Linked DNA regions of Homo sapiens: all the other regions are reported to be linked to region 2. Evidence: microRNA targets listed by miRTarBase, many of them from high-throughput screens and not tested one by one. Region 2 holds a microRNA gene; each other region holds the end of a gene's coding sequence.
What was found. The annotated mature microRNA hsa-miR-503-5p reads UAGCAGCGGGAACAGUUCUGCAG and lies in region 2 at 867-889, shown strand. An mRNA with a match to its seed (bases 2 to 7 or 8) in the 3' UTR can be bound and repressed. Matches are read on the target gene's strand: a 7mer-m8 pairs with bases 2 to 8, a 7mer-A1 pairs with bases 2 to 7 and ends in A, and an 8mer does both.

Region 1: miRTarBase lists RFK as a target of hsa-miR-503-5p. Seed matches in the 3' UTR shown: 7mer-A1 at 1,144-1,150.
Region 3: miRTarBase lists CLTC as a target of hsa-miR-503-5p. Seed matches in the 3' UTR shown: 7mer-A1 at 2,311-2,317.
Region 4: the mRNA of PLEKHA1 is a reported target of hsa-miR-503-5p. Seed matches in the 3' UTR shown: 7mer-A1 at 1,178-1,184.

Annotation. Positions count from the first base shown.
Region 1 is chr9:76,384,607-76,387,762 of GRCh38, forward strand. RFK (riboflavin kinase) reads right to left here. Exons shown (of 4, transcript NM_018339.6): 4 at 920-2,923. The coding sequence ends at 2,793. Among named protein-coding and RNA genes, the nearest start is that of RFK, 8.2 kb to the right of the region's middle.
Region 2 is chrX:134,544,104-134,547,259 of GRCh38, reverse strand. MIR503 (microRNA 503) reads left to right here and starts at 862; the gene lies at 862-932. It overlaps MIR503HG (MIR503 host gene), which reads left to right and starts at 630. Exons shown (of 3, transcript NR_024607.1): 1 at 630-708; 2 at 2,463-2,546. MIR424 (microRNA 424) reads left to right here and starts at 549; the gene lies at 549-646.
Region 3 is chr17:59,693,231-59,696,381 of GRCh38, forward strand. CLTC (clathrin heavy chain) reads left to right here. Exons shown (of 32, transcript NM_004859.4): 32 at 498-3,151. The coding sequence ends at 622. Among named protein-coding and RNA genes, the nearest start is that of PTRH2, 13 kb to the right of the region's middle.
Region 4 is chr10:122,429,515-122,432,670 of GRCh38, reverse strand. PLEKHA1 (pleckstrin homology domain containing A1) reads right to left here. Exons shown (of 12, transcript NM_001001974.4): 12 at 326-3,047. The coding sequence ends at 2,733. Among named protein-coding and RNA genes, the nearest start is that of MIR3941, 14 kb to the right of the region's middle.

The sequences.
Region 1 (3,156 bases), not on the chromosome of region 2:
TATCTGCCCAATTTTTACTTTACTTTAAATGTTAATAGAGACAGGATCTTACTATGTTGCCCAGGCTGGAGTGCAGTGGCTACTTACAAGTACCCATAACAGCACACTACAGCCTTGAATTTCTGGCCTCAAGTAATCCTCCTGCTTCAGCCTCCCAAATAGCTAGGATTATAGGCACATGCCACAGCACCCAGCTGCCCAATTTTTATACAACACCTTGCCATTTTACCATTTTTGTTACTCTTTTACTTCATTACACATATTAAACAGTCATTTCAAATTCTATATCTGATAACCCTGGATCTGCCATCTCTGTAGAGCTTATTTTACAATTTGTTTCTGGCATCTTTTTTGGCAGAATAGGTTAGTTTCTTGGCTCCATCTCTGAAGACCAGACTTCCACTTCCATCTCCCAATCAGAATCATGTTTCATGGTAAGCTCTAACTGCAGGCTGTAAGCCTCCATAGTTGAGGAAGATGAGAGTTCTGGGGATGACTGTTCAAAGAGTACCAGCATGCAACAGAGAAAGGCAAACGAGTTCTAAGTTGCTGCTTATGGGGTTGGTGGCAAAAGACAAGAAGGTTACAGAACTCTGTTTTGGGGCAGGAGTTATGCAAGGGAACCCAGACCTATCTATACTCTTCTGGCTCTTCTATCTCCAAAATGTAACAGGAACCCTTACTCTCAGGAAGTGGACTTTAGTAGTGATGCCCTGTGATTGCTCTCCAAATAAACCTCAGTCACTGTGTTGCAGGCATAAAACACAGGGGATCCTGAAGGCAAGGCCCTTTGTTGTAGAACTACAGCTGCCACCTATATCTTGCTCTTCAGGCAACTTCACACACTTAAGAGTAGCAATCAGCCAACAAATTCGAAATACATAAAGTAAGATTCAAGCTGACACAGGGAAAGAAAAAATATCACTTAGTCAAAATTTATTTCAAGGCCTGAAAACATTCAGACTAATCAAAATGGTACTACTGTAACTTCTTATAATACATAATATAAAAGTTTTTGAAAGATATAGACACAATTAACCCCTAAACAACACACTATCTGATTCTCAAAAGCAATGGCTATTTAACAAGATGTAAAAGGACAATAACATATCAAAGAACTTTCACACACCTAAAGATAGCATTTAGCAGCAAGTTAGTCAGACAAAACAAACACAAATATTTTCACATTTCCTATGTTTGTTTTTAACTTTACTTCATAAAGCCACTGATAATTGAGGTTTCTTTCAAGTATAAGATTTCTAAAATTAAAAACTGTTTTTGACATATTTTTATAAAGAAATAAAAAGCAAAACGCAATCCAACTATTTATATGAGTCCCTCTTCTCCAACAGCTTTAGATGTTTTTCTGAGTACTTTTTACACAGAATATTTTTATTAAAATCAGTTCTAATTCATTTATGCAGATTAGGGGAAAATGATTCATAATAAATTAACTTTAAAATTACCTTCTATCTGCTTCTACCTCTATCCCCCCATCACCACCAAATCTGTTGCTACAGTGAACTGTAGCAATGTACTGTTTGAGGGGGCCCAAAGCATCTGTAATCTTAATTTCCCACATATTAGTTAGTAGGAGGAAAAATCCACAGTATGAAGGCTATTTAACTAAAACTTTATGCTTTTCCCTCAAGCTGTAAGTACTCTTTAGCATTAAATTACATCGTGCATATACAACTACACCCATTTAGATTTGCCTTGGAATATAATTTCAAGGCCTTAAATATTAAAAATAATTTTATAACTATTTCATAGTTTAATTGGCTCTTAAATAGTTTTGCTAGGGAGGAAACATTTTGTGTTCTTTAAGAAATTGATATGTGTAAATGTGTTCACTTAAATCTTGAGAAAACCTAAGGATGAAGTCTGTTGTTTTGTTTTTCCTAAAAAAGGAAAAAAGAACCAAAGAAAAATGTTGAAGAACAAGAATATTTACCATTAAAAAGAAGAAACATTATCCAACAAAAAGGAGACATATAGATTTGAAAACACTTATTTTACTGTCTTCAACAACAACAACAAACAGATAGGCAGGGGAAGTCCAGAGGACTCAGAATTGAAGCAGCTCTATACAATAATGAAGGTGGTACAATGATGTGACTGCAAAGAAAATGACTAAAACAAAACTTTACAAACATCTTCATGTTTGTAATGTATTAATGCACAAAATATCAAAAATAGAAAGTCTGAGTTTCTTCCCCGCAGGTTTATGATAAACTATCAACCTTCTATTTAATGCATTTCCTTTTTTTTTATTTATAGAGATGGAGTCTCGCTATGTTGCCCAGGCTGGTCTTGAACTCATGAGCTCAAGCAATCCTCCCACCTCGGCCTCCCAAAGTGCTGGGATTACCGGTGTGAGCCACTGCACTTGGCCTTAATGCATTTACTTTTATAAGCCTTCTCTGTTTAGAAGTACACACTACACAAGTACATACATGCTGGCATTTTACCATGAAAATTTTAGTTTTCATCTCAAACTAGTGACTTGCCTTTTTACCCATACTTATACACATGTAATACCTTTCTAGTGGTACATTTTAATCAATATATATTTTTTAAATCTTATTTTTAACTCAATCTTTTTAGTGCTATGATATGATGGGCTTAATTTAATAGTTGAAGCATGATATGATAACAACATTGTACGGTTTAAACTAATTCACAACTGTAGTAAAGTGTTTGATTTTCAGTATATAACCAAGATGATGCTGAACAGTAATAAACACAGAAACACTAGAAAACAGTGAATGAATAAATAATACAATTTTTCATCAGTGGCCATTCATTATTTTGCTTTTAGAAACCTGGAAGAAATTGTCTTCTTTGATTTTCAAATGTTCTGGTAACTCTAGTCGTTTCTTAGCTTCTTCAATATCACCTTGAATTGCTGAAATAAGTGACTCTGCAGAGAGAATATACCAGGTAAAAATGATGAAAAACCATTAACATACTTTTTACTACTACTCTGTTTAGCCAATCCTAAAAACTCACAGGCTGGCAGTATCTCTGCACAGGGTAGATACCCAATAAATGTTTGTTCCATCACTCCTTCCAGGCCTAAGTCAATGGTACACAAAAGATATGTCCCTAGGCCGGGGGCAGTGGCTCATGCCTGTAATCCCAGCACTTTGGGAA
Region 2 (3,156 bases):
ATGTATATGTCGCAACGATAGTGTAAGAATCAGCTGAAGCTACCGGTGAGGTTTTGGTTATTTTCTTTCAGTCATCTGAGTCCATTTCCAATAAAGGTTGTTTTTTTGTTTCGTTTTTTGTTTTTTTTTAATGGGGACAATGAATGAGACTTGTAATATGCAGCAGGAAGAAGTTTCACCAAGACTTTGAAACTGGCAAGAATGATCCAGATGTCCAATTGCCTCTACTTAACCTTATTCGTCTACCTTCAGAAGTAATTAGATTCTCTTCCACACTAATTCGTATCCCCCATCGCTCTGCTTTTCACCCACTACGTTGTTCCAAGATTCATCCTCAGGGGAAAAAATTGAGAGCCACACTTTCGGCTCCACCTGCAGCTCCTGGAAATCAAATGGTGAAGTTATAAGAAGTACCTTAACTTGGAGTGAAGTGGCCTAGTCATAAGTTTTGCCCTATTCCTTGCCAGGGGGTGGGGCGGGGCTTCCTTCAGTCATCCAGTCTTTATTCACCCGCAGGTACCCCCAGATCGATCCCCCTTCATTGACTCCGAGGGGATACAGCAGCAATTCATGTTTTGAAGTGTTCTAAATGGTTCAAAACGTGAGGCGCTGCTATACCCCCTCGTGGGGAAGGTAGAAGGTGGGGTCTGCCGGACGCGTGTTCCTGCCACCAGGTGCCCGCTCCCCGCGAGGCCGGCTCAGGAGCAGGTAGGTGGGCGGGGGCTCGCGTCTCTGTTTCCGGCGGGTCCTCGCCCTTGTCCACGCAGCAGGGCTGTAGTCCGGGGAGGGCAGTATTCCTGGCTAGGCTGGGGCGCATAGGCGGTGCGAGTCGAGGAGAGACGCGGTGCCCGCGCTCAGCCGTGCCCTAGCAGCGGGAACAGTTCTGCAGTGAGCGATCGGTGCTCTGGGGTATTGTTTCCGCTGCCAGGGTAAGTCTGGGACTGCCGTTCGGGCCTACCCAGCAGGTAAGTCTTAGGCCATCGCCTGCGGTGTCGGCCCCGGGAGCAGCGAGACCCAAGATTGCATCAAACGTTTGCCCCGTCTCTGCATATGTGACTGGACGTGAATGATGCTTCATTTTGGCACCCCCTTTCCCTGCTCAGGTAGAATGTAAACAATTGAAAAAAATCCCTTCCCAATCAGAATACCACCCACAGGACAACGAAGAAAACCTATCTTCAGTCCCCACCCACGAAATGCTGGGGGGTGGGGAGGACTGGAAAAGGAGTAAGGGGAGAGGAAGGGTGAGCAGCTGCAAGAAGTCTTTACACCTCTCTGCGGTTCCTGGTAAACGCGCTCATGTCCTGGGTATGGAAGGGACTTAAGAATTCAGGAAAGATCAAAATAACGGGCCTCTTCCCCACTCCCTCGCCCTCCCTTCCCCGCTGCTGGGGGGTTAGGGAGGCTCCGTGGAGCTCCAGCACTCTAGAAGGATCGGGTGAGGCGCGAGGCCTTGCGGGCGGGTGAACCCAAGGTGGGGTGGAAGGCTCCAACCCGCCCAATCTGAGCCCGAGGCCTGCTGAGAAGCATGGGGGCCTTGGGATAGTTCCAGAATGAGGATGTGCGTTTCTAGCTGCTTTGCGCCCTCCTCCCCCAAAAATCTGCTACCACAATTCCAACCCGGCGGCACGCCCCCAAGACTCCTTTGTCGCCCCAGGGGCGGGACCTGAGCTGTCGATTTCAGGAGCCCTTCGTGACTTCAAAAGTCCTGGGCACTGTTGCTCATGAGTGCTGCACAACTGTCGCCCTCTAAAGCCACCTCCATCCCTCACTGGGCTGGCCTCCTGAGCCTTCGGTGAGGAAACGGGGTTCCGAGTTGCCCGCCTGAGAGCTTAACAGTCTGACTAGAAAAGGGCTAATTCGCTTTCTGTGCAAATCTCTTGAGCTAATTATTTAATCTGAAACATGGACAGGTAAAGGACCATTGGCGGGCGTGGGGAGGGAGGTGTGGAATCTTTCCCACACTTTTTGTCACCTTAAAGAAAAAAAAAAGACACCCAAACTCCTCTGGTCTGAATGGGCTGCCTGGAACTGGGCTTCCCGGGGCCAGGAGTGGGCCCCTAGAAGTTTCCCAGTTTGGGGTGGGGCCGGGGTTCCGAAGTCTAGAGCTGGGAGTCGGGTTCAGCGGCCCGAGACGCTGGCTCTCCCAGACTCCCTTGCGCCGGGGCAGTGCGCGGGGGCGGCTCGGGTCCCTCCCGGGCCGGCGGGGACCCTCAGGCTCCCGGGGCGCCGCCCACCAGCCCGACCCGGCGGCCTAGAAATCCCCATTCTGCTCCCGCCTCGCCCCGGCCGGCCAGCGCAGGGCCCCTCAGGCCCGCAATCTCCAGGCTCAAACGGCGAACAGGTCCCCGCATCCGCCTGCCTTTGCACTTGGGGGTGGGAGAGCCACCTTGTGACGCCCCTTCTGCCTCTCACCAGCTTCCCCCTTTCTCCCCGTCCTGTACGGTTCCCCCTGGAGCCAGAAGGAAGCCCGGTGCCAGCCAGCCTTCCTGAAAGACCAAGCCCGCGCCATCCGGCTTCCTCCAGTGGACGCCTGCAGGACCCAGGTGAGACACGGAACCGGTTGGGGACGCGAGCCAGGGATCCTGACCGGTTGGGGGCGGCGAGCAAGGGATCCTGACTTGGGGGCGTTGCCTCCCGGAATCCAAGCGGCCTTTTGCCCGGGTCTCCCGAGATGCATCGAAATTGAGCTCGTCCACACAGCCCCCTGACTGCGTGATGCCCTTTTCTGACTTAAAACATTCCTTGTACCTTTATTTACACGATCCAAGTTGCAGTGTGCCTAGATTTTCCTCCAAGGACAAAAATGTGAATAAAGCAATATTTTAGCCAAACATTTCTGTGTCAATTAAGAAGATTGCAATTCGTTCCAGACTATAAATTCTCTTTAACAACTCCCTAAGGTATTCTTTTAAATTGTTTTTCAGCGTTGCTAAATGTGCATCATAATGTGTGGGAGACTTGTATAAAGTGAATCAATTTATACTCAGCTGATTAATTGACCCGATGTTACCACCTCCAAGGAGGCACCTTTCCACTATTTTCTCATTTTTTCCCCAACACATGTTATTTGTTAGTGAGGAAGCTGCGTGCACGTGGCATTGTATAAAGTTTATTAGACAGACGTGGCCCTTAAACTAGGAAGAGCTTAGTCTA
Region 3 (3,151 bases), not on the chromosome of region 2:
GTGGCGCACACCCATAATCCCAGCTACTCGGGAGGCTGAGGCACGAGAATCACTTGAACCCAGGAGGCAGAGGTTTCAGTGAGCCGAGATTACACAACTGCACTCCAGCCTAGGCAACAGAGCCAGATTCTTTTTTTTTTTTTTTTTTTTAAAAAGTCTTTTAAAAAATTCTTTTATTGTGCTGATTTTATTGTGTCATGAAGTGTAATATGCATGTAGGTATGTGTCAAGTATACAGAGTGTCAGGCATACGGTGTTCAGTCATAAGCAGTTCTGGCCTTTGGCCCTGCACTGTTTGTTGGCTTTTTAGGTAGGAACCTTCTTAGAGTAAGACTGTCATGCTAAAATTGTAGCAATCAAATGTGCCCCCCATACAACTCATTTGAGGTTGAGATTATGTTGCTAGAGTGGAGGAGATTGGAGTGTTCTAAATGCTAACAGTTTGTCCTGCCTCCTTGCCCCTGCCCCCTGCTCCTTTTTGTTTTCTTCTACTGTAGGTCAGCCCCAGTTGATGCTGACAGCAGGACCCAGTGTTGCCGTCCCTCCCCAGGCACCTTTTGGTTATGGTTATACCGCACCACCGTATGGACAGCCACAGCCTGGCTTTGGGTACAGCATGTGAGATGAAGCGCTGATCCTGTAGTCACCTATTTTCGTACTGAAACATCGTCTTTACCCACTTCTCAGTTTATAATGGGGGAAAACAGGCAACGTGTTCTTGTAACCTTTATTTCATGAAGGACTTCTTTTTGTTTCTAACTATAAACTTGGATCACCTATGTTAAAACCTTATTTCACATTCCACATCATTTTAGAATTTATTTTCGAAGGGGAATAGTTTCAATGTTTTATTCACTTGGGCTTTTTTTCTTCCCCCTCTTTCTTTAAAGAACTGCTCAATATTCAATCTGTTGTGAAGAACCTGATTTGCACTCTGTAGTGTTTAAAGAAACAAAGAAACTCTAATATTGAATCTCTTAAATTTAGTGTATGTAAACAGCTTACAAATACGTATTGTCTAAATGCATTTAAATCTGTTTTATTCAAAGAAAAGCTAAAGCAAAAACACTGGCATATGACCATGCAAGACTGTCAGTGCCAACAAAGACAACACTAATCAGCACATCGTACACTGGATTGCAGTGCTTCCCAGATTATTGAAAAATGTTACAGACAACTTGCCTGATTTTTAAATGAGCGTAAAAGGCCCTCTAACCTATGCAGGTTTCCCCATTATGCATATAGAAAATGCTAGTATGTTTTGCTCACTTCATATGTAACAGGTGCCCTTATGTTGTGCTGTATCCTGTGCTTTTTCTGTGGGACCATTCCATTCAGGAGCAAAGAGCACCATGATTCCAATCTTGTGTGTGTTTACTAACCCTTCCCTGAGGTTTGTGTATGTTGGATATTGTGGTGTTTTAGATCACTGAGTGTACAGAAGAGAGAAATTCAAACAAAATATTGCTGTTCTTCAGTTTTGTTTGTGGAATTTGAAATTACTCAAATTTAAAATAAATTACTGGACTGTGGAAATAACATAGAATTGAAGTTTTAATTAAATACCACTCAAACGAAAAGAACAGTAGTTTTTGTAGTTTTATATTGGATACTGAGGCATTAGGGAGGCATGAAAGGAAGAGGAATGAGGATTGAGACATGTGAAGACATTGTGCATTATATCAATGTGCATTCCTGTAGTTCATTAACAAGGTACATGCAATAGTCTAAAGAACCAGAGTCACTACTATAGTGGCTTAACATTTAATCTGTCTCCAATATTTTAACCAAGTGACACCGAGGTTTTTATCGAAGCATTTCACTTAAATGAACAAATCATGGCTGTTATATTAACTTGAAATAAAATATATTTAAACATGTAGTTAACATGCTCTTTCTCATCATGAATTATAAAGGTGCCCAAATTATGGGTATCTTGATTTTTTTCAAAAATTGGTTGTGTGAATCCAGCTCTTGCTTATGGCTGAGAATGTTCCTAAAGTTCATTTCACTATCCCTTAATCCTCAATAGCTACACATACCCCCTTGCCTAGTTAGTCTTGCACTGCTTTACAACTCTCTTAGGCAAATTACCTAACATAAGCTCCACAGAAGAGTTTTTTAAAACTTAAAATCCCTGTCCCACCAGGTGTGGTGGCTCATGCCTGTAATCCCAGCACTTTGGGAGGCTGAGGCAGGCGGATTGCTTGAGGCCAGGAGTTCGAGACAAGCCTGACCAACATGGTGACTCCATCTCTACTAAAAATAAAAAATCAGCCAGGTGTGATGGTGGATGCCTATAAGATCCTAGCTGCTACTCAGGAGGCAGGAGGCTGAGGCATGAGAATCACTTGAACCTGTGAGGCAAAGGTTGTAGTGAGCCAAGATCACGTCACTGCACTCCATCCTGGGTGACAGAATGAGACTCTTGTCTCAAAAAACAAAAAAACCTATTTAGTTTCATCCAGGACATTAAGTGAAAGTGTTTAATGTGAGTGCAGGTCAGTGAAGAATACAATGGTGCCCCTGCTTTGATTTGTGGGAGGTGCCATCAGTTTTCCCCACCACTGCTTTTGCACCCTCAGTGCAAATATCAACACAGAGAAAAAAAAAATAATAATAGTATTATGAAAACATTGACTCTGTGGAGACCCTGTGGGTTCTGCAGAGTATACTTTGAAAACTATAAGATTATGAGTTCTATAAAATACCAAGTACAGATGAACTAGAAAACAAGCATATATCCACAATTACCAGAATTTTCATAGTATTCCTTTTAGTAGATATGCCATGACAGTTACTTAGCCACCCCATGCCATCCTGTTGGGAATGCCACTACCTTTGAATTTGGAGCCATCAGTCTATCTGAGGCAAACCTCAGAAATTACCTGAGCCAGAATCATGCACTTAGCACTGAGTTCAACTCAGTCTTAACGTTGCATTTTGTTGCATCACTTTTGCAGCCAGTAAACATTCTGTTTAGAAATAGTTGCTATTGTGGCATCATTCACAGTTGCAATTTTTCTCCTGTGCTGTCATATGCCTGTGCGAAGTGTATTAAATGAATCAAATATTAGAAATTTCAAGGCTGTCTTTAGTGTTCTGCCCACAATACTCCACCAATGACCTTAGACCTTGAGATGGTGCTATA
Region 4 (3,156 bases), not on the chromosome of region 2:
CACTGTGAGCAGCCCAGATGATCCACACGATGCTCTGAGGCTAACATATGATAATTCTGCTTTTGAGAACATGTTTTTTAATTAAGAAAAATAAGCAAGTTCTTTCCCCTATCAAAAAAAAATCATTTTTCCTTCTATAATTTCACATGCAGGGATGCATTAAGAATTCACAGATCTGAAGTTTCTTATTCTTGCAAAGATGACCAAATAATTACTCTGTCCTTAAATATGTAAACTGAAGTCAATTAACCAAACACACCCCTAATCATTGTATTTACTTCATCACACAAGGGCTGAACCAAACAAAATGAGAAATAAGTCAGAATAAACTCTGTGCAGTTTATTCTCATTACAGTGTTCAACCAGTTTGACATATAAAGATAACACACTTTAACAGTAAATGTTGGGAGGCACACATATATTCCCATTCTGAAAGAAGACATGTTATATATACGGAAAAAAATGCAGCAAATATTAAGGTATTCAAAGTAATTTTTTTGAACTCAGATGTGACATATTTACAAGAAAAGTGTGTACGTTTTAAAATAATTAAATAATTTCCATAGACTTATAAAAGAATTGAGATAAATATTAGGAGACCCTGACAATCACCAGAACATTTTCCTATGCTATCGAACAAGGATAGTTCTATTTTAAAATGTCCCAAAACAGAGCTAATATTTTGCCACCATGAAATATATCAAATTGCAAATACTAAAGTGAACATGCAATGTGGAAGCTGTACCAAAATTAAACAGCATTAGGTTCTTAAATATTGCAAAGTGTCTATTTAAGATTTCTCGGGTGTGTTCATGAAAAAGGAACTTTCAAAAAAGCCATTAAAATGAATATATCAGCTGAAAAAGTGATAACTCATTAAAATCTCTTTATTCTATCACTTTCAAATGTAGCTGCAAAAGAGAAAAAATCTTAATGTAACTTTAAAAAAATATTAGCTTATGAATAAAAAAGTTGAGTGGTGCATTCTTTATGCATACAGATTTTTAAACTGATATTGTATAATTCTAATACATCTTAACCTCTGGACTGCACTGCTGTAGTAGGAAATTTTTCTGTCTCAGACAAGAAGTCATCTAAGAAAATGAAAACGAGAAATTTTCAATGATATGCATGAATTCAAAACAAAACAGTACTGTAAAATGGCAAAATATAAAAATAGCAGCATGTGAAATTCAAGACTGTTTTCTTAAAGCAAATGTTTAAGACTGAACCTCAAAAACGGTACTTATGGGCCGGGCATGGTGGCTCACGCCTGTAATCCCAGCACTTTGGGAGGCTGAGATGGGTGGATCACCTGAAGTCAGGAGTTCGAGACGAGCCTGGCCAACATGGTGAAACCCCATCTCTACTAAAATACAAAAATTAGCCAGGTGTGGTGGCATGCACCTGTAATCCTAGCTACTCGGGAAGCTGAGGCAGCACAACTGTTTGAACCCACGAGGTGGAGGCTGTAGTGAGCTGAGATCACGCCACTGCACTCCAGCCTGAGCAACAGAGCGAGAGCCCGTCTCCAAAAAAAAAAAGCAGTACTTACTCAAACTGGTCTATAATTCAACGTCGGAAACTAAAGATTCTTTAGAGAGGTGCTTATATCTATATCCCTATGATTAAATGTATTCTCAAATTTGTTTTTTAAAACATATATATTGCACAAGTAGTAGAATACCAGCATTCTGGTATCTCTAACATAAAATCCTATCTTAACACATTCAACTATTCTACTGAAAATTAATTTTATCACAATGTTTAAAATCAGTCACGTAGGACTTTTAAGCACATTAATCTCAAAACATTCCTAAACAAGATGAAAAAACACAGGCACTTGAATGTAGGCTATTAGTGACAAAAAGTAGAGGTCACAACAATTTCATGACTAAGGGCAGTTATGTCTTTACATATAAACTTGAGGTCTTTCACCAATCCAAATATAGAAATAACAACTATTTACAAAACTTGGATAAGAAAATCAGATCTCCCAAAAATTTCCTACCAAATAATTTTTGCGGAATAAAGCAGTGACTGCTCCAAGGCCTGATGAAGCTTTTTCAAACAAATGTCTAAGACACAGTTGTTTCAATTCTAGTTTTCTTCTTTTCTCTATGCCGGTATAACCCACAACCCTTACTGTTGGTCTATCCATATCCTCTATGCAAAATAAGTCACCTCAAGATTCAGGGCATCAAAAATGGTTATAATTTCAAAATAGTCCACATTTTAGTATAAATTTTACAGCACCACAGACATCATGAGTTTAGGTATCTTGGTCTGGCAATATTTCATGTGGTAATATCAACCAATAAGAATGTGTAAATATTGAACCTTTAATAGGAAGTCATTGTAGCATTTTTTAAATGACCAAAGTTATTAATAAGCATTTTTAATGCTTTAAGTTGTTAAACATTTAAACTGTCAAAATCACTAAGAAAAAAATATTACACATACATTGTTACCACCCGAATGAGAACACACAATGCTTCAGACAGATGATACTGAGATATTTTGGATTTTTCCTTTTTCTTTCTTTTTTAAAGAAATTATATTTAGTTTGGCCACTCCCTAGATTCTTGGTTTACCAGCTTATAAAGAGTACACCTAAGAGGCAGTATAATATACGCACTAAAAACCATTTCCCCCTTTATCATCTTTGGCTAGAAGCCTCATGAAAGGAAACTGAGGACGGCAGAGGCAGGCAGGCTCCGTGCGCTTCTGCCTCACACGTCACTGACCGGAAGGCTCGCATCGTCCAAGTCTACTAGGTCACAATCTTTTTCCTGAGGGCCATTTTTACTTTGAGGTCTTAACAGAGCTTGTTCAGTCACTTTGGAAGCTGGTTCTCTTGGAGAGACAGTCTGGACCTTGAAGTTCCCTGGCTTGACCTTGGCAAGAGACTCGTAAAATCCTCGCTTCTCCATGGTAAAGGTTGAGACCAAAGAGTTGCTGCGAGAGGCTGTGGAATGTGAGGTGGCGGTGGCTGCGTTGGTAGGACGGAAAGCGTGTTTGGATTCTGAAGGACCGGGGGGATGCTCCTGCAAAAAGGAGTGGCAGTCAGACACGGTCAGTCACTCATGACCAGGTTAGTAACTCAGTGTGAGACTTGATTCTCTGAAAAACAAATAAAACACACACACACACACA